Homo sapiens: one gene and its partners. The protein of the gene in region 1 binds, or shares a complex with, the protein of each later gene. Each region holds a gene or a part of one and is shown on either strand. Other genes may lie near its edges.

The links. Proteins that work in one complex are often made in the same cells at the same time.
Region 2: TIMM21 (region 1) and TIMM23 share a complex: the UniProt entries of both Homo sapiens proteins name them as parts of the TIM23 complex.
Region 3: TIMM21 (region 1) and TIMM17A share a complex: the UniProt entries of both Homo sapiens proteins name them as parts of the TIM23 complex.
Region 4: TIMM21 (region 1) and CMC1 share a complex: the UniProt entries of both Homo sapiens proteins name them as parts of the MITRAC (mitochondrial translation regulation assembly intermediate of cytochrome c oxidase complex) complex.

Annotation. Positions count from the first base shown.
Region 1 is NC_000018.10:74,150,764-74,155,874, reverse strand, and holds part of TIMM21 (mitochondrial import inner membrane translocase subunit Tim21 precursor), read right to left. Parts: intron 731-5,111; coding exon 668-730; coding exon of another isoform or gene 651-667; intron 570-650; coding exon 472-569; intron 1-471. UniProt on the Homo sapiens protein: Participates in the translocation of transit peptide-containing proteins across the mitochondrial inner membrane.
Region 2 is NC_000010.11:45,978,040-45,983,150, reverse strand, and holds part of TIMM23 (mitochondrial import inner membrane translocase subunit Tim23), read right to left. Parts: intron 629-5,111; coding exon 535-628; intron 306-534; coding exon 221-305; intron 1-220. UniProt on the Homo sapiens protein: Essential component of the TIM23 complex, a complex that mediates the translocation of transit peptide-containing proteins across the mitochondrial inner membrane.
Region 3 is NC_000001.11:201,964,554-201,968,995, forward strand, and holds part of TIMM17A (mitochondrial import inner membrane translocase subunit Tim17-A), read left to right. Parts: intron 1-879; coding exon 880-990; intron 991-4,442. UniProt on the Homo sapiens protein: Essential component of the TIM23 complex, a complex that mediates the translocation of transit peptide-containing proteins across the mitochondrial inner membrane.
Region 4 is NC_000003.12:28,313,670-28,318,780, reverse strand, and holds part of CMC1 (COX assembly mitochondrial protein homolog), read right to left. Parts: intron 2,449-5,111; coding exon 2,358-2,448; intron 2,029-2,357; exon of another isoform or gene 1,922-2,028; intron 1-1,921. UniProt on the Homo sapiens protein: Component of the MITRAC (mitochondrial translation regulation assembly intermediate of cytochrome c oxidase complex) complex, that regulates cytochrome c oxidase assembly.

The sequences.
Region 1 (5,111 bases):
TAAGTGTCAGTCTCCCCTTCTGCAAACTGAAGACAAAGTAGTGCCGAACACAAATGGTTTTTGTGAGACTGAATAAAGATGATGCACTGAGACCCTGGGCAGAGTGCTTGCACGGACACATTTTCGGTAAGTGTCAGCAATGACATTATGACCATGAGGTCATGCATCAGGCTTTAAAAAGACTAGAAACTTACCATGAGTTCAATATTTTGGTGTATTCTAAAAATTTAGTATCTATGAACAACCAGCAAAATGACTGTCTTGTACAATTAGCATGAAAACATCTGTACACTGACTTTTGGGTTCTCTTAAAGAGCAAAGACCTAATAATGTAATGATGACTCGACCATTATGTATTATTATGTGAATTTCACTAGCGTGAGAACTGGTTCTTGAATTCTGCCCACTTCCTCCTCCCAGACATTTTCTCCCCCTCATCAGAGTTCATGTAACTCAATCTTGAGAACTAACCTCAGGATGTGATCTGCATTTTTCTAAGGCTCTCCCATATATCTTGCTAGGACTGGATGAAGAAAAAAGTTCTTTGAAAATCGTGTAAAACAAGCCACCTGAAATCACAGAAAACAAAGATGAAGCGAAGCAAGGGCAACATAAAAAGTCCAGTTTAAAAAATATTCAAGGGCTTATACTTGCTGTTTTTTGCAACCTGTAATGCTGATTCCAAAAAGCACCACTATTAAATAGGTAAAATCTCTTCCGGCTTCTTTCACTGTGAAGAGAAAACACCAATGGGTTACGGGTGCCGGCTGGGAGCAGGCAAGCTTGTCTGCTGCTTTTGCACTTCTTGCGAGAGAAAAGCAGCCTCCAGATCAAAGCAAGGGGTCTGTGTGTGTTCAGGGGCAGCTGTTTTGAAAACTCCCTGTGTGTCAGCGCCTCAGCAGAATTCTCAGAGCAGGGCTTGGGAATCTATGTTTTAATTTAGGATGAAGAAATCCTTTTAACAAGTGATCCAGTCCACAACTGCTGTAGGTTAGGCAACACTCCCAGATTAGGAAGAGTGCTGGCTTTTGTCAACCAAATGGGTAAGGGACTGAATGGACCAAAATGGGTGTCAACTCTTAACAGTTAGTAACTAGCTCGAATGCCAGTCCCACCCCACACTGACTGGTGCATAAAAACAGAACTGTGTTCAGAGTAGGAATATGGTTGGCCAGAAAGATTTATGAATTAAACTTAGAAAATGAAGAAAATGCACAGACCAGACATTTGTTTTCCCACACTAATAAAATATGTGCATATGGGTTAAACAGACACTCTGAGAGCTAGAGAAACTCAATCAAGACAGTGTCAGGGGGCCAGGCGCGGTGGCTCATGCCTGTAATCCCAGCACTTTGGGAGGCCGAGGCAGGCGGATCACGAGGTCAGGAGATCGAGACCATCCTGGCTAACACGGTGAAACGCCGTCTCTACAAAAAATACAAAAAATTACCCGGGCGCAGTGGCGGGCGCCTGTAGTCCCAGCTACTCGAGAGGCTGAGGCAGGAGAATGGCGTGAACCCGGGAGGCGGAGCTTGCAGTGAGCCAAGATAGCGCCACTGCACTACGGCCTGGGCGAAAGAGCGAGACTCCGTCCAAAAAAAAAAAGACAGTGTCAGGGGACAGAATATATACATATGTATAGCTATAAATAAATGTATTTGTATTATACAGAAATACATATACAAGTACGCTTATTTGTCCCTATTACCCCAATCACCCTAGATTCCCGATTGTCCCTCCCAACATTTCATTCCTGCCTTGCTTAGCGTATCAGGTGAGTCTTTCTATTTTTTCACTTACCAACAGCTACTGTATATCTACCATGTGTATCTTCATATATATGCAAAGAGCTATAACATTACAGTTACACTACCTTAACATTACAATTACGACTATGCTTTTCACTGATGCTGAGAAAGTGAGTCACCTCCTGGCATTATGTTTATAGACTAATTTATTCACCACATTAGCCATTCAGACTTCTGAAATATAAATCTTTAAAAAATTTTTAAGAAAAAAACTTTTGGAAGAAAATTTTAATAGATGTTGCTGTTATTTTCTCTTCTGTATAAAAAGCTTCTATTATGTTTATAAACAACATTGTTTAAAAGAAGTATTTAGCTAATACAACGCTTGTTTAAAAGTAGTCTTTAGCGTATCACAATCCTTCAAGTTTTCAGCAAGGTTCCCAACTTAGAAGACATTATTCAAATAATAAAAAGACCTCATCTGCCAAAATCTGTGTAATTCATGGGACTGACTCAAACAATTGTCACAAATCCAATTTCCCTTCCAAGGTTCAGGAGTTGGGGCCTACAATGACGACATCTCATTCCACTCTCAGTGTCACAAAATACATTTCAATAAATATTACCTGCCAGTTATGTATCAACTCCCAGGTTGAGAATACAATAACAACTAACTAGTTCTAGTAAGTATCCTTATTTGTCCTTGTTACCCAAACCGGGTCATTGGCCCCAACACCCTGGACTTCTGACTGTCCCTTCCAACAATTCATTCCTACCTTGCTTAGGGTATCTGACAGGTCTTTTCCATTTATTTGATAAACAACAGCTCCTGTATATCTGTTATATATAAAGCCCTGTGCTAAATATTCTCCATATTCTACACACTTGAAAAATTTCTGTTTGTTACTTTATAGCTGTCTCCAATGGAAGCTGCTCACTGTCTAACTTTCTGAACCCTATCAGACCTAATACTTGTATGCAAAAAACCCTCATGCCATTTATTTGCTTCCACAATTCTCTACCCCTCCTATAGTGGGTGCTGTGGTATGGGGCTCCCAGCTGCAGGGAGCACTGGTAGCGGACAGTTGTCAGCTGAGCTCCTCTCTGGGCATTCCATCATAAGAGAGCTTCCTCACTTAGGTCACGGCACTTCCCTGGACCAGCCCATATTCAATGCCTGGTTGATGCAGAAGCATAAGACTCAGCCCCCATATTAGGTAGGACAGTGACTGGCCAGCTCAGCTCCAGAAGTCCCCAGAGCAGCAGCTGAGGCCCCAACTGCAAATGCACTTCGGCCTCTCCCTCTGCCCAGTCCTGCTTCCCTCATCCCTCAAGACGTATTCTGAGAGCACTCCCTGATAAACCTTACGCAAATCCCACTTCCCTGGGAAGCCAACCTACAACGGGTGCTACCAGGAGTGGTAAGCAGCTCTCAATTTGGATTTTGGAGCTGGCTTGCCGGCCACTGGCTGGCAATGAGGACCCTGTCCCTGGTGGTAGGGGGGTACTGACAGCACCTGTCATAGAGCTGTAGTGCAGCTGATGCAGCTCTCACCAATGGGGACCTGGGATGGAATGCTGGCGGAAGGGAATGTACTGGCTGATGTGTTATTCTGGGAGTTTAGGAGGAATCAGCAATTTTAAGGACTTATATCAGACGGCTGTGGCTGGGGCCATGGAGAGGGATGGTGAGATGAAGTGTGTAACTAATCACCAGTGAAGGTGAGTGCCAAGGGCAGGAGCCTCCTCCCCGGCAGAACAAGACTCAAATTGCACCCAGAGGATAGAAAATGCGTGGGTGAGGTCTGGGGCGGAAGGGATTCAGGGAGTTTGGCATTTCAAGCCCATGAGACCTCCCACACCAAGGTCAGGGTCCTGATTTGGGAGGAAAGGCAACCTAAAGCTGGGTAGGGGGCCCTTGAGGTCAATGTTGTAAAAAATCTTGAATCCCAATTCTCCTGACCCCTCTAGCCCTGAAGCAGCAGCTCAGTGTCTGGTAAAGGTTGGCACTTCCTCCACCTTGGAAACTGGGCGAGGGGTGGGTGGGGGTTTCTGCCTAGCAAGATACGTGCTGCTCTCAGGAGGGCTCTCCACCTCCCCTCCTGGCCAAGTTACAACACGACTGGGCATGAGAAGGGTGAGAAGAACAATACTCGGAAGGAGCTGGAGGTCCCCCCGGGGGGGGGGGGAACATAGACACCACTGCTTCTTAAGGGTGGTGTGTCAAGGGCACAGAACACAAAACCAGCTGAGAGTTGATCAGCATGGGGCACGCTCCTGTGATGAATTTAGCAACCAGGCAAGCACCCTGGGAACTGATATGCAGCTGGCTAGGTCTGCTCCTGGAAACTTCGAGACAGTGATGGTCCACATTAAGTAAAAGTGACAGAACAGCCATGGCAAACTGGACGAAAGGCTCAACAGCCTCCAAGAATGGGGATGCTACCATAGATATAAGATATAAAGCCCGAAAACCCACCAGCTGACTATGTTCTTAGGAGGGACAGGAGGACACTGTGTACCAAAGCCACAAGGAAGCCACAGTTACATCTTTATAGAGCAGGATGCCCTGACAGAAATGGAGATGAAAGAATTATGAAGCAGAGACCAGGCTGGGGTGTTAAACAGAAGCCAAGGTGGGTGCAACCATCATAACTAATGGCAAGGCTGGAGTGGCAGTCGGGAGTGTCTGACCTACAGAAAGCAACAGAGTTGATGACTAGAACACAGTGTTTCCAAAGGGAAGACACAAGGGCAGCGGACAAGGCTACTTCTGAATTACACAGTCATGAGAAATTAACTACAGATGATTCCTGAGGCTGAAGGCAGCTGCTCTAATGCAAAGTCCTGAACATTGCCCCAGTTTCTGGACCTGAACCAGTTTTCAGACCTGGAACGCATTTACTGAAGGAAAGCGTATGTAACTGACTCCCCCCGTCCTTCACCAAAAGGACCTACAGTTATCAACTTGGACATAGTCTGTGCTGACAGTGATACCCAAGGACCCAAAGAGTCATGATGACCCCCTGACCGCCCTCCATCACCGGATGTAAGAAGCTCACAGGTGGGTCCAGGGACTTACCTGGCAATAATTTCTGTGATTTCCAAATGTATAAATCAAGGGGATGTACTGAGTAACTGGCAACAATAACTCCCACTTTAGTTCCTTTGGAAGTGGGTTAAGAGCCATCGCAGTGGGAAAAGTCAAATGGAAGCCCCTGAAGCTGCCCTTTCGGTGACCAAGATAGGAAATTAAAAATGATATCACATCTATGGGGAATGGCAGAGTATTCTTAGAGACCTTAGATACAGGCATGGCGATCCCCATCACGGTCCCTTGTAATTTACCAGTCTTCCTTTACA
Region 2 (5,111 bases), on another chromosome or scaffold:
GACTGAGGGACACTGATTAAAAAAATCACTCCTTTTTAAAAGCTTAGAGTCAGTAATCTGATTCCTTAGTTGCTTTTATTTTGATTAAGATTAAAAAACAAAGACAAAAAAGCACATAACTATGCTAACCATCTGTAATCTCAAGGTTGTACTCATCAAACCAATACAACAGAGCTTAATATTCAAGTATCACTACATCAGATGGTTACAAGAGACTTACTGTACATTTCTTGGTTTGGACCAGGCCATGTTCTGGGTTTCCTTCAATCCTAGCCGAAGACCATTCATTGCACCAAACGCAGCCCCTGGTAAATCATAACAATTCACCCAGATAAAGACAGCTTTATATTAAAAAAACAAACTCAAATCTGCATAACTACACTTCTGATTCTTTTTCATTTTTATTTAATAGAAAAAGACAAATGTAAATATTAAAAAAAAAACCCTGAAACCAACATTCTAATTGCTTTTGATTTTACGCACCCTCAACTACTTGAACTGAGCACTCTTGAGAAAAAAGTATGTAACACTCACCTGTCATGCAACATCCTCCAATCGTAAAGAAGGCCAGCTCAAATCTGCCCCGGGTTTTATTAGCTCCGGTAGGTAAAATAAACTCATCTGTATCCTAAAAGGATAATAATGAAAACCAAGCTGAGTGTCCCTCAAGACACAAATCTTGTAAAGTTGCCTTTTTAACATTTCAAAGTAGTTTTTCACAGAAAATAAACCTTAAATTAACTCAAACCTATACTTAAACAAAAATAAAACTTTCTGCAGCAGTAACACCTAAATCAAAGTGAAATGAAATACGAAACATAGTTCTTAGAAGGGAGTCTCATTAAAGACTTTGTTTCCTTCAAAACGTAAATCTGATAGATTTGTGCAAAAGTGTTTAGAAAGGACAGCTCTAGAGAAAGGAACACTGAAAGCTATGAGAAGAACAGAACAGACAATCAGTCTGGAAGAAACAAATAACTTTCATTCTGTAGCAGCTATTTATTGTGCATTTTTCTATGTATAAAGCCAAATGTTCACAAACATGAGCAAAAACTAATAAAGTACAACAGTTTGGATCAATTATGCAAGGGCAAATGACCCCCTTTAATAATTCTTATCTGTTTAAGGAGTATATATTCCTTTGATACTCTCAGAAAGCTATAGACCCTATTTCTAGTAATTGCATACACAAAATGTGGCATGAACCCCTGGAAGGTCATCCAAAATACTAAGACTGAGAAATGACACTCTTAAGAGCAAAATATGGTTACCAATTTTGAAGAGTCAATGCACCTTTATGAAAAACACACTCAAAAAAACAAACAAAATTTTATCACCATGTTGGATTAAAAAAATAAAATCACACTCATTTTTGGCAAGCTTTCCAACCAAAGATGGTTAAAATAAGCCTCTAATGGCTAGGTCACACCCTTGGCAAAAAGACACATAGTGTGTTACATTTAACATAGTAAAGACCACTGACAATTAACATTCTCCTACATCCTTGTGGCAAATACTGAACGTTGATTCAGAAAATTGTATTCCTAATCAGAAAACTGTGGTTCTGCCTTGGTTTTTTCTTTCTGGCATGTGCACACATCCTCACCAAAAATTGCAAAAGTAAACAAACACATCCACTCTCATCACATAAGAATGGTCTGTTGGGCAATAATAAAATCTGAATAGATCCCATGTCATAATATAATTGTATAGAGTTTTATAAATTTTGGGTACTTCAACTTTTAAATAATGACTTAGTATTAAACTGCTTTTTGTTTGAGTTTTTAGAAATGCTAGATTCAATGTGGTAAGGTAAATAATTATTCTTCAGTCTCAGGCCATGGTTGCTGAGAAGAAAAAAAAAATTATCCTTCAATACAGAAACAGATTACTAATTAAGAATAGAAAACTTGGCCAGGCACGGTGCCTCCCGCCTGTAATCTCAGCGCTTTGGGAAGCCGAGTCGGGTGGACTGCCAGAGCTCAGGAGTTCGAGGCCACCCTGGGCAACATGGTGAAACCCCGTCTCTACTAAAATACAAAAAATTAGCTGGGCGTGGCAGTGTGCGCCTGTAGTCCCAGCTACTTGGGAGGCTGAGGCAGGAGAATTGCTTGAACCCGGGGGTGGAGGTTGCAGTGAGCTGAGATCACGCCACTGCACTCCAGCCTGGGTGACAGAGCGAGACTCCATCTCCAAAAAAAAAAAAGAAAAGAAAACTTAAAAAAAAAAAAAAGGCTGTGATGAACATTATCAAGCAAGCAAAAGTGCACGTTAGCACCAACTCATTCTCCTGCTAGTATCAACTGAAAAATATAACAAGGGTTGCAAGCAAACGTCCATCAATTCACACACAAACAAGGTTGTTATCAAAGTATGTTAATATATTGAATGTATAGAAGATTTACTAAAAACCTCTTGTTAAACCTGTTCTGCTGACACTCCAGGACACTAGTATTACTAAAATCCCAAGTACCAGAGCTTGCTGACATGGAAGATAAATCCAAGAATGGGTATCAATGTACTTGCTGGGGGAAAAGAAAAAACTTTTTTAATTTATAATTTTGCGTGTTTAACACTATGGATGTTAAAAATATTTAAATTTTCCTTATTTTTGTACCAGATGTTCACCTGGGCTAACAAAAAAATTTATTACTTGACACAATTTAAAAAAAAAAATCAATAAGGATACAAGAGTAGTGACAATACAAAAGCATTAGTAAGAGAAACTACAATACTGTATCAGATAAAAGTTGGCTAGGCACAGTAGCTCACGCTTGTAATCCCAGCACTTTGGGAGGCCAAGGTGGGAGGACTGCTTGAACCCAGGAGTTCCAGACCAGCCTGGACAACACAGTGAGACCCTGTGTCTACTATTAAACAAGAAAAAAAAAAAGTTGTTGCCAAAGTCACGACATGGTGAGTTGACAGGTACTATTTTCTTTAAGATGTCTCTAACCTTCAAAAGTATAAATAAAAGTTTTACAAAATGTAATTTCTATTATCTTTAAATTTAAGGTCTCCAGAATTATTTCCAATAACAGATGAGGTTTATAAAACACTTTTTAAAGTCTGAAGTCCCTCTAGAATTCCAATGGAAGATTAAATGTTCATGATGAAGAATGAATTCACAAGTTTTTGGGGGGATATGAAATATTTTATGTCTAACCTTAATAAGCCCCACCTAGCAATGCAGGGCCACAATGATATTGAATTTTAACTAGATCTAGAGTACAACCTCTAAGTGTAGATTCAACATTAAAGCAAAATACATGCAGCTAGTTTTGAAATTTTGAGTAAACTGACAAAGGAGTACTTTTAAAGTAAAAAAATCAATGAACACCCAATGTTAAAATATAACATTTGAAAAACATTTCAAAAATAATGAAGCTTTAAATTGGCAAGGTCCGAACCATCAACTTGCTTCAATTTGAACACTTAACGCAAACAAGAAATGCAGCAGCTGTCAGATGCCGTTAGTGATTCAACTGTGAAATAAAAGGTTCCAACCATAATGCTTAAAAAAAAAAAAAAAAAAAAAAAAAAAGGCCAGGCATGGTGGCTCATGCCTGTAATTCCAGCACTTTGGGAGGCCAAGGCAGAAGGACCACTTGAGGCCAGGAGTTAAGAGACCAGCCTGGGCAACCAAGTCAGATCACATCTCTACAAAGAATGTAAAAAAAAAAAGAATTAGCCAGGCATGGTGGTGTTCATCTGCAGCCCTAGCTATCTGGGAGGATGAGGCAGAAGGACCGCTTGAGCCTAGGAGTTTGAGGTTACAGTGAGCTATGATGCTGCTACTGCAACTCCAGTCTGGGAGACTTTGTCTCTTAGAAAAAAAAGAGAGAGAGAAAATGGAGTTACTGATCTGTATCTCATGTATCACACAATCCACTTACTTAGAGCGTACAATTCAGTGGTTTTTAGTATATTCAGAGTCGTGCAACCAAGACTACAATAAATTTTAAAGCATCTTCATCACCCCCCAAAAAAATCACATACCCATTAGCAGTCACTGCCCATTTACTCCTAACCCTTGGCAGCTACTAATCTACTTTCTTGTCCATATATTTGCCTATTCTGGACATTCCATATAAATGGAACCACACAATATGTGGTCTCTTGTGACTGGTTTCTTTCATTTAGGAAGTTTTAAAGGTTCATTTATATTGTAGCACAATTTAATAATTCTTTTTTTATTACCAAATAATATTCCATTGTATGGATATGCCACACTTTTTTATCCATTCATCAGTGGATAAACATTTGGTTTGTTTCCATTTTTTGGTTATTATGAATAATGCTACTAGCAACATTCATTTACAACTTATGTGCACAGAGGTTTTCAATTCTCTTGAGTATGGAGTATACGCAAGTGAAATTGCCAGTCATAAGGTAACTCTATTTTTAACACTTTGAGAAACTGCCAGACTGTTTCTAAAAGCAGCTGTATCATTTTACATTCCCACCAGCAATGTACAGAGGTCCAATTTCTCTACATCCTCAACAATACTCATTATTTTCTTTTTGATTATAGTGATCCCCGTGGGTGTAAAGAGGTATCTCATTGTGGTTTTATTTCTCTAATTAATGTTACTGACCAGCTTTCATGTCATTATTAGACATCTGTATATCTTCATAGAGAAATGTCTACTCAAATCCTTTGCCCATTTTGTAATTATTTTTTATTAATGTTTCAAGAGTTAAAAAAATTAAATATTCTAGATATAAATTCCTTATCAGATACATAATATGCAAATATTTTCTCTCAGTCTGTGGATTGTCTTTTCCCAATTTTTTTCCTTTTGAGACAAAGTCTCTCTCTGTCACCCAGGCTGGAGTTAAGTGGTTTGATTATGCTGAGACTTGACCTGCTGGACTCAAGTGATCCTCCCACCTCAGCCTCCCTAGTAGCTGGGACTACAGGTGCACACCACCACACCCGGCTAATTTTTGTATTTTTTTGGAGAGATGGGATCTTCTTATGTTGGCCAGGCAGGTCTCAAACTCCTGGGCTCAAGTGATCCTCCCGCCTCAGCCTCTTAAAAGTGTTGGGAGTATAGGCACGAGCCACTGCGCCAGGACTTTTTCCATTCTTTATTTATTTTTTTATT
Region 3 (4,442 bases), on another chromosome or scaffold:
GCAGCCATGGATAATACATAAACGAAACAGTATGGCTGTGTTTCAGTAAAACTTTATTTATTTATTTATTTTATTTTATTTCTTTTTTTTTTTTTTTTTTTTTTTTTTTTTTTGAGACTGAGTCTCACTCTGTCGCCCGAGCTGGAATGCAGTGGCGCAATCTCGGCTCACTGCAAGCTCTGCCTCCCGGGTTCAAGCGATTCTCCTGCCTCAGCCTCCCGAGTAGCTGGGACTACAGGTGTGTGCCACCACGCCTGGCTAATTTTTTGTATTTTTAGTGGAGACGGGGTTTTACCATGTTAGCCAGGATGGTCTCGATCTCCTGACCTCGTAATCCACCCACCTCGGCCTCCCAAAGTGTTGGGATTACGGGCGTGAGCCACTGCGCCCGGCCCTATTTATTTATTTATTTTCTTGAGACGGAGTCTTACTCTGTCACCCAGGCTGGAGTGCAGTGGCACAATCTCGGCTCACTGCAACCTCTGCTTCCTGGGTTCAAGCAATTCTCCTGCCTCAGCCTCCTGAGAAGCTGGGACTACAGGTGCCCGCCACCACGTCAAGCTAATTTTTGTATTTTTAGTAGAGACGGGGTTTCCCCATGTTGGCCAGGCTGGTCTCGAACTCCTGACCTCATGATCTGCCTGCCTCAGCCTCCCAAAGTGCTGGGATTTATGGCCTTTCAGTAAAACTTTATTTACAAAAATAGGCAGTGGGTGGACTGTGGGTGGCTGTAGTTTACTGACTCTGGGTCTTAGGCAATAAGAAAGAGTTTGGGAGTTGGGGGAGCATGTCACCATATGGACAGTTCTCTTCTTTACTATCTCTTACAGTAAACTAGATTTCTGTAAAAAATAATCTCTTTGTTATTAATGTCTTCAGATGGACCAGTGGCCATGGTTGGGTCAGCCGCAATGGGTGGCATTCTCCTAGCTTTAATTGAAGGAGCTGGTATCTTGTTGACAAGATTTGCCTCTGCACAGTTTCCCAATGGTGAGTCTTTTTGCTTAAAACTATAGCTCAAACATTTTGGAATGGTTTTCTGATGTTAAGAAAGAACATACTTTGTGTGATAAAATGTGTGGTATGTATTAATATGCTGTGGTTCATGAGGACTGTGATAATAGGTAAAAAATGAACATGTTATATTTAGCCACAAAAACAAAAATTTTTTGTATAAATTTGCTGTTGATCTTTCTTTATAGTACTTAGGGTTTATCAGTGCTCATGTCTTGCAAGAAATGTCTGATCATTTTAAAGGGACTTGAAGAATGGTTCTGCAGATGTATAACAATCATGATGGTCAATTGACAATTTAGTATTGTACATCTACATGCCAGACACTGTTTTAGGTAGTGAACAGGACAGTTCCTGCCCTCAAGGACTTACATTCTGGTAGGGGGAGACAGACTAACACATTAACAGATAAATTAGCTTATTTTAGATAGTGTTGCTTGTTTTGAAGAAGAGAATAGTGGAAAGTGACTCATATTTGGGAAGGTCACTTTAGGGTTCACAGTAGAAGTATCTTAGAAAATGTGTTAGCCCGGCTAATTTTTATATTGGTTTAATTTGTTGCCTGTTGTTCCTCCTATATGATGCATAGGGTAATAATTAAATTGTGGGCTGAATGATCATTACATGGTTATAGAATGTGCTCTCAGCTGATTAGCCAGGCATAATGGCTCACACCTATAGTCCTAGCTACTCAGGAGGCACGAGAATCAGTTGAACCTGGGAGGTGGAGGTTGCAGTGAGCCGAGATCACACCACTGCACTCTAGGCTGGTCGATGGAGCGAGACTCTGTCTCAAAATGAAACAAACAGAAAACTTCTATCAAGATGGTGCATTCCTGTAGTTCCAGCTACTCAGGAGGCCACTCACTTGACCCCAGGAGTTCAAGGCCAGCCTGGGCAACAGAGCAAGACCCCATCTCTTAAAAAAAAATTTCAGTGTCTAAATGAAAATATCCCTTGACAATGGAAGGATGCAAAAAGATATTGTGAGGTGGCCGGGCACGGTGGCTCACACCTGTAATCCCAGCATTTTGGGAGACTGAGGCAGGTGGATCACTTGAGGTCAGGAGTTTTGAGAGCAGCCTGGCCAACGTGGTGAAACCCCGTCTCTACTAAAAATACAAATTAGCAGGGCATGGTGGCACACGCCTGTAATCGCAGCTCCTTGGGAGGCTGAGGTACAAGAATCACTTGAACCTGGGAGGCAGAGATTGCAGTGAGCTGAGATCACACCATTGCACTCCAGCCTGGGCAACAGAGCAAGACTCCATCTCAAAAAATATATATATATATAACATATATATGTTATATATATGCTATATATGTTATATATTATATATGTTATATAATATGTATGTTATATGTTGTATATATGTTATGTATTATATATGTTATATATTATATATGTTGTATATTATATATGTTGTGTGTGTGTGTGTGTGTGTGTGTATATATATATAGTGAGGATAGTAGTAGTGAAAATTTGACCTGGCATTTGGGAAGGAAAAAAATACGTAGAATAGTGAGACATGTTGAAAATTATTTTTGGAGCTTGGAAAAGATTCAGCATAAAGTTAGGAATAGATCATACATCCCAATTTGCTTTGATTTCCCTGAGGCACCTAGCAAGAGATTCAGTATCTTTTTGGCACAATTTTCAAGTGCACTGCTCGTTAAATGGCAGTGAGTAATCTAGATGACCCTGCAGACCCTCTCACCTTCTGTTTGTTTTTCATTCCTTACTTCTGAGTTAACACTCTGTAGTGATGGTCACTTTCCAATTTTGTTTTGACTGCTTCAGTGTGAAAGACTTTACATAAAACATCAAAACAGTTCCATATTCACAGAAATTCAGAAATGGATATAGTTAACTTAAATAGTTACATTGTCTCATAGAAATTAGCCTTGAGTACTTTGTTTTAGGCTTTTTTCCTCAGAGGGAATCTCCTTTTTATTTATTTATTTTATTTATTTATTTATTTATTTTAATTTTTTTTGAAACAGAATCTCTGTGACCCCGGCTGGAGTGCAGTGGTGCAATCTCGGCTCACTGCAGCCTTGACCTCCTGGGCTCAGGCGATCCTCCCACCTCAGCCTCTTGAGCAGCTGGGACTATAGGTGTGCACCGCTATGCCCGGCTAATTTTTATATTTTTTGTAGAGATGAGGTCTCTGCCCAGGCTGATCCTAAACTCCTGGGCTCAAGCGATCCTCCCTGCCTCGGCCTCCCAAAGTGCTGGGATTACAGGGGTGAGCCACCGTGCCCAGCTGGAATCTCCTTTTTAGTAATTAAAACTCAGCATTTATATAGAAGCAGCCTAAAAGAGGTGTATTTATTTTTAGACAAGAGATGTGTTTCTGAAAAGCTGTGTAGGGGGGAAATCTTTGAAAACTTAATCATATTTTTCCAGTGAACTTACATGAAAAAGTTTGTCTTGTTTTGTTTTTGAGACAGAGTCTCGGTCTGTCGCCCAGGCTGGATTGCAGTGGTGCAATCTCAGCTTACTGCACCCTCCGCCTCCGGGGTGCAAGCGATTCTTCTGTCTCAGCCTCCTGAGTAGCTGGGACTACAGGTGCGCAACATCACACCTGGCTCATTTTTTTTTTGTATTTTTTAGTAGAGATGCAGTTTCACCATATTGGTCAGGCTGGTCTCGAACTCCTGACCTCGTGATCCGCCCGCCTTGACCTCCCAAAGTGCTGGGAATGTGAGCCATCGCGCCCAGCAAAAAAGTTTTTAAAACAGTGAAAAAAGGTTAGACAGAACTGTATGTAAATGGCAACAGTGGTTTTCATCGGCTTATCTTTTTTTGGGGTTTTTTTGTTTTTGTTTGTTTTTTTTTTTTTAGACAGACTTGCTCTGTCTCGCAGGCTGGAGTGCAATGGCGCGATCTCTTCTCACTGCAACCTCCACCTCCCAGGTTCAAGTGATTCTCCTGCCTCAGCTCCTGAGTAGTTGGGATTACAGACACCCTCCACCATGCCCAGCTAATTTTCATATTTTCAGTAGAGACGGGGTTTCGCCATGTTGTCCTGACCTCAGGTGATCTGCCCGCCTCAACCTCCCAAAGTGCTGAGATTACAGGCGAGAGCCACCGCACCCGGCCCCAGCTTATCTTTTTTACCCAGTATCTTCTCAAGTTTTCTGTAATTAACAGATAGTTGCATTTATAGTGAAGTAAAAATATATGAGTGAAACACTTTGAAAACTTCAGAGAATTCTGCCACTGCCCTCTTTCTCTCTTCCTTCCAGATATTTTTTAGTCTACTTCAGTTTTTCTTAAAGGAGAAAAGATTGATTCATCCCCTAAAAGTCTTTTTTTTTTTTTTAAGCCACTTTGTTTTACTTAGTTCACAGGCTCTCCTATCCTTTGAAAATGAAAACTGCAAGACTTTGTTCTACAGTAAGCTAGGGGGTGTCTTCCCATT
Region 4 (5,111 bases), on another chromosome or scaffold:
TTAAAATAATCCAGGCAAAAATGATGGAAGGCGCAGGCCAAAGGAGGAGCTGTAGGAATGAAAAGGAAGAGATGATGTGCAGGAAATTTCAGAAATCAATAGGAAATAACCAATTAGAGTTAGGAGACAAGACTGTAGATACTAGACTACTGTATAATTCACAAAGACACGTTGTAGGACGAGCAAAAGGAGCCCAGTTCATTTTTGGACTTGAACAAAGAAACAAATGTTACTTTCTATAGTAAGTAATTGAATTCATGGGTGCAAACTAAACTTCCTCAGATTTAAGAATGAGAAGAGAACTTGGGGAATCACCAACATTAAGGAGTAGATTAAAAACATGGAGAAGTACAAAGAGATTTTGGGAAAATGGGAAAAAATATTATCAGGGAAGACAGAGGAGACTTTTAAGAAGGGATTGCCAGAGACAGGTCCAGTAAAAGAAAAGGAACAATTTGTTGGATTTGTCTACCATCAGCCCATCAGAGTCTTTAAAAAGAGCAGGTTCAGTGATGTGAGGACAGAAATCAGATCATAGTGTATTAAGGAAAAAAATGAAAGTAAGAGGTAGAAATAAAGGAGCAAAAACAATGTTTCAAAATGAGAGAGGATAGCAGTTACGTTCATTTCATGGAAATGTCAATAGTAATTAACAAAGCAGAACACCTTCTTATTTAAAGATGAATAAATACTATTTCTTAGTGTATCTGGGGACTCAAAGTCAAGTACAATTTTCCCTAATAATTTTCCATTTACTTTCAGTTAATGTCACATCCACTGCTTATCTCTTCTAAACAAGCAGAAACAGCCATCCTTCCTAGCCCCTCTCCTCCCCTCAGATGGACTAGAATCTGTTATTTTCTTCTTGTATTTCTAGGGGGTGAGAGAGGGAAGGATATTCAAATGATTAATATTCAGATAAATAATAACAAATACTAATCAAAAAAGAGCTAACATTTTCTGAATACCTATCATGGTAAATGTGTTTACATGCAGTACCTCACAATCACTCCATAAGATATAATTATTCCTTCTTACAATGAGGAGCCTGCCTAAGGTAACACGACTAGCTAAGCTCTCACTGATACAGAAGCTGAACCCAGGTTGCCCTCTCTGCAGTCTATACTCCTGTCTACTCTGCTCTAGAGCTCCCCCAACTGGAGTGAAGGATAATATGTCAAACTAGCAATAACAATTATGATGACTGAATCTGAGATATAAAAATTATTTAATCAATGTATAAGACAGAATTTAATAATTCAGTCATACAAAAGTTTAAGAGATTCGTTTACTCAGTAAACATTTCTTGGAAGCACTTGAGAATAGAACTGAAAGAATATTAAGTCACAGAATGAACTTTTACTCCTATATGGTAAAGCACTGAGTACAATACCTGGACCATAAATAAGGGCTGCTTTGATATTATTAACTTAAGAAAAAAAATCAATATTGATTATGTTTCATCATTTACAAATATAGCAAATATAGAGATGAGTTTACATAATCTCTAAAGTCTTTTCCAACTCCACCATTCTAAAAAAAGGTCTATAAGTTTATGTGTACATATTTTATTTAAAAAAAAATGTAGGGTTCGGGTGTTCATTACATTTTTATTTAATCCTCTAAGATACATACCATACTGACATATACGCTGCACAGGCTACAGAAATTAAAGGAAACAAAGGCTTACCAAAACTAAGATCTCTCAACATTCAATTAACAATACTTACTAAAGTATTCTGCAATCTTATCTGTCAATAATGTGGGCAATAGAACATGGGTGAATAAATCAGCATGTGAATTCAAAGAACTTCACACATTTTTACTTAAATTTAAGGAACTACAACAAAATATTAGTGAACACGATATTATAAAATTATTTTAAAAGTAAATTTGGTTAACTTCAAAAATCTAAATTTACCTTTTTATCATCCATACGATTTATCTCAACTTTCTAGGAGTTAAATTATATTAATCCAACAAATCACAAGGCTGGAGGAAGTCTCAGAGATATTTTCATTCAGTTATCTTTACAACAGAATAAACAAAAATCAGTCTGTACTATATTTTACAGATCAAACTGTTCATGAAAAAAGATTTATTAAATAGTGAAAAATCATATATTTTTGTCTGCTGACTTCATCTTTTTAATCAGATACAATGCTGAGAAAATTTGAAAAGACTCTTTCATAAATATGTTGCATTTTTAAGACTGTACTGGAACTTTAGACTCAGCCAACAATATGATAAATTTGGTATGGAGAGGTACAGAATATATTACATGTAATGAGTTAAGTAACATACTCTTATCTACCACAAATACACATACAAGCACAAACGCTGAGACAACTACTTACTAAGCAGTTAGACATTCTTTCAATGCAGAATTTTCTTTCCGGCATTTTACTACCATAAGAACTCCAGAGTTCTTGCAACATTTGGTAAAATCTGAAATAAATTTGGAAGGAAAAAATTACTTGTAATTATATCTATATAAATACCCACACACACAATTTTCTTCTTTTTAGAAAAAAAAAAAGAAAGCCTGTCACCCAGGCTGGAGTGCAGTGGCATGATTATAGCTCACTGCAGCCTTGAACATCTATTATGTACATTGTGCTTGGCACATGGTACCGTGCTCAACAAAAGACATGTACACCAGTAAAAGGCAGAATAAGATGAGTGATATTCACTTTGTATAAATAAATGTGATTTGAGAAGAGGGAGAGAGGACTTCTGAGATGAAGGGCAAGGAGACTTCATAGAGACAGGATGTAGAGATAGGATTTCTAGTAGAGAAACAGTACAATCATGGGCTGCTTAACAATGAGGATACATTCTGAGAAATGCATCATTTGGCAATTTCATCGTGGTCCAAAGATCAGAGTGTACTTACACAAACCTAGATGGTACAGCTGAGTAGATATCTAGGCTATTTTGTATAGCCTAGGCTAAAACCTGTACCATATGTTACTGTACTGAATACTGCAGGCAATTATAACAGAAAGGTAAGTACTTGTATATCTAAACATTTCTAAACATAGAAAAGGTACAGTAAAAATACACCATTATCATCTTATGGAACCACCATCATATATGTAGTCTGTCATTGACCTAAACACTGTCATGCAGTGCACGACTGTATATTCTAGGAGAAATACAAAGAGTTGACTCTTCCTTTGAAAGGGAATTGTTTCCAGACATTGGTATCTGTTGTCTAGTCTCTGCATGTCTTCTTAGTACCTGGCAACAAAAGCCGGTGGATTCCCACCTGATGGCAGCAAGGCATCCCTTTGCTTTTACACAACCCTGCCATGGTTTCTTAACTTCTAATAACAGGACCCCCATTTCATTCCCAAGTAAGTTCTAGGTGCTGTAGATACTTCAAATGGCTTTCTGTCAAATTTCCACTCTGCTAGTTTGCTCTTTAAATTGTACTGGCACCTTGGGTATTCTGCCTTTTCAGGACCACAAACCCAGAAAAGCCTGGTACCTATGCTACCCACAGGTGGGCCACTTACTACTCTGTCTTGTGTTTGCTTTGGGTCAGACTCAGTCCTGTCTTATCCCTTACACAGGACAATATGCTTTGCTCCTCATCTCTTGCAGCTACTCTCATGAACTACTCTGGTCCCTCCTTCTGACCACTGGCTGCCCTAGTTCCAGACTCTGCCACCCCTCATCTACTGTAAGTAAGCAACTATTTCCAAGTGAGATCTTAAACATCGTCCTTACAAAGAAGCTGTAGGCAAAAAAATGAAAATAAAAATAAATTGTGTATTGTGTTTTCTCAATATCTTTTGTAACTTTGAAAATACAAAATAATCAAGATTCCTCTCTTTTCTTGAGCTATGTGTTATCCTTCCAGGTACTTGGGATTATAAATTATTTATAATTGTCTTAGACAGATAATCTTAGGAGTGTCCATGAAAATACATAATTATGTAACAAAAATATTTTTAAACCACAAGCAACCAAAAATGAGATTTATTAAATGCATAAAAAATTCATTAGGGGGGCCTTGCTGGGACAAGAGCCCTATAGCATAGATACCTGTATCCACTCACAACATCATAGTGATACTTCCAAGAAAATTGGTGGAATAGGAAGAAGGAACAAGGGATGCAAGAAATGACTTTAATTCAAATAATTTAATGTGTGTGATCACATGAAGTGAGTGATACATAGTATTCCCCTTCAAGGACACACAGGATTAGTTCCCTTTGGCTTCTGCTTCACTAGTCTCAGCAGTCCCAACATTTGCTCTCTCATTCCCAACCCAGCCTGTTAGACTCTAAACGTAATCAAGTATCTTCTTTATTCCAACTGCAAATGTTCTTGTTCCTCTTGACGCAGATGAGCTGGCCACACAGGTCAAATCAAACCAAGGGAAATTCTTTGTGCCCTTTGACTAAGGACTCTCTAACACTCAAAAGGCAAAGCAGACTTATAGCCAGCTCATTTTCAGTGGAGACGCTGAAGGGTAGCCACATGGCTATCTAAAAGTCAACTAACTTTCACTCTGGAATGCCTATCTATTCCTATACGTTAATTTTTCTATTTATAGCATGATGTTAAGATCTACCTTTACATAAGCAAAGACTACGATCCCAAATAAAAAGACATGGGCAATCCTCAAACAATATGTATATAAAGTTAATCCGGAATTAGCTAAAGCTAGCTAAAGGCTTCTTTAAGAGAACTGCCATGTTCAATAGTGGTAATGAACCATGGGCTGGATTCCCCTGCACCACCTTACCTTTACTGTCACCTTACTATACCTATACCAGACCAGTTCACCCAAATAATATTTGGTAGAAAGGTAATTAGATCATGAATTTTGTCTCATGAAAACACACTAGTTGACCAAACCTCAGTCCTTTTCCGGAAAACACAGACACAACGGCTGTTAGCAAATGCTTACTTTCTGATTTAACAAACCCAATATTTTAACTTACTTAGATAAATAGGATGCTTAGGCATTGCATTAAGACTTGTTTTGTCTAATATTAGTAAAAATGTCCTTGGTAGGGAACTGGTACAAACTAGCATTTATGTGTTCTGATCACAATAAAGGCATAGTCTATATACTTTCACACTTGTCCAAATAT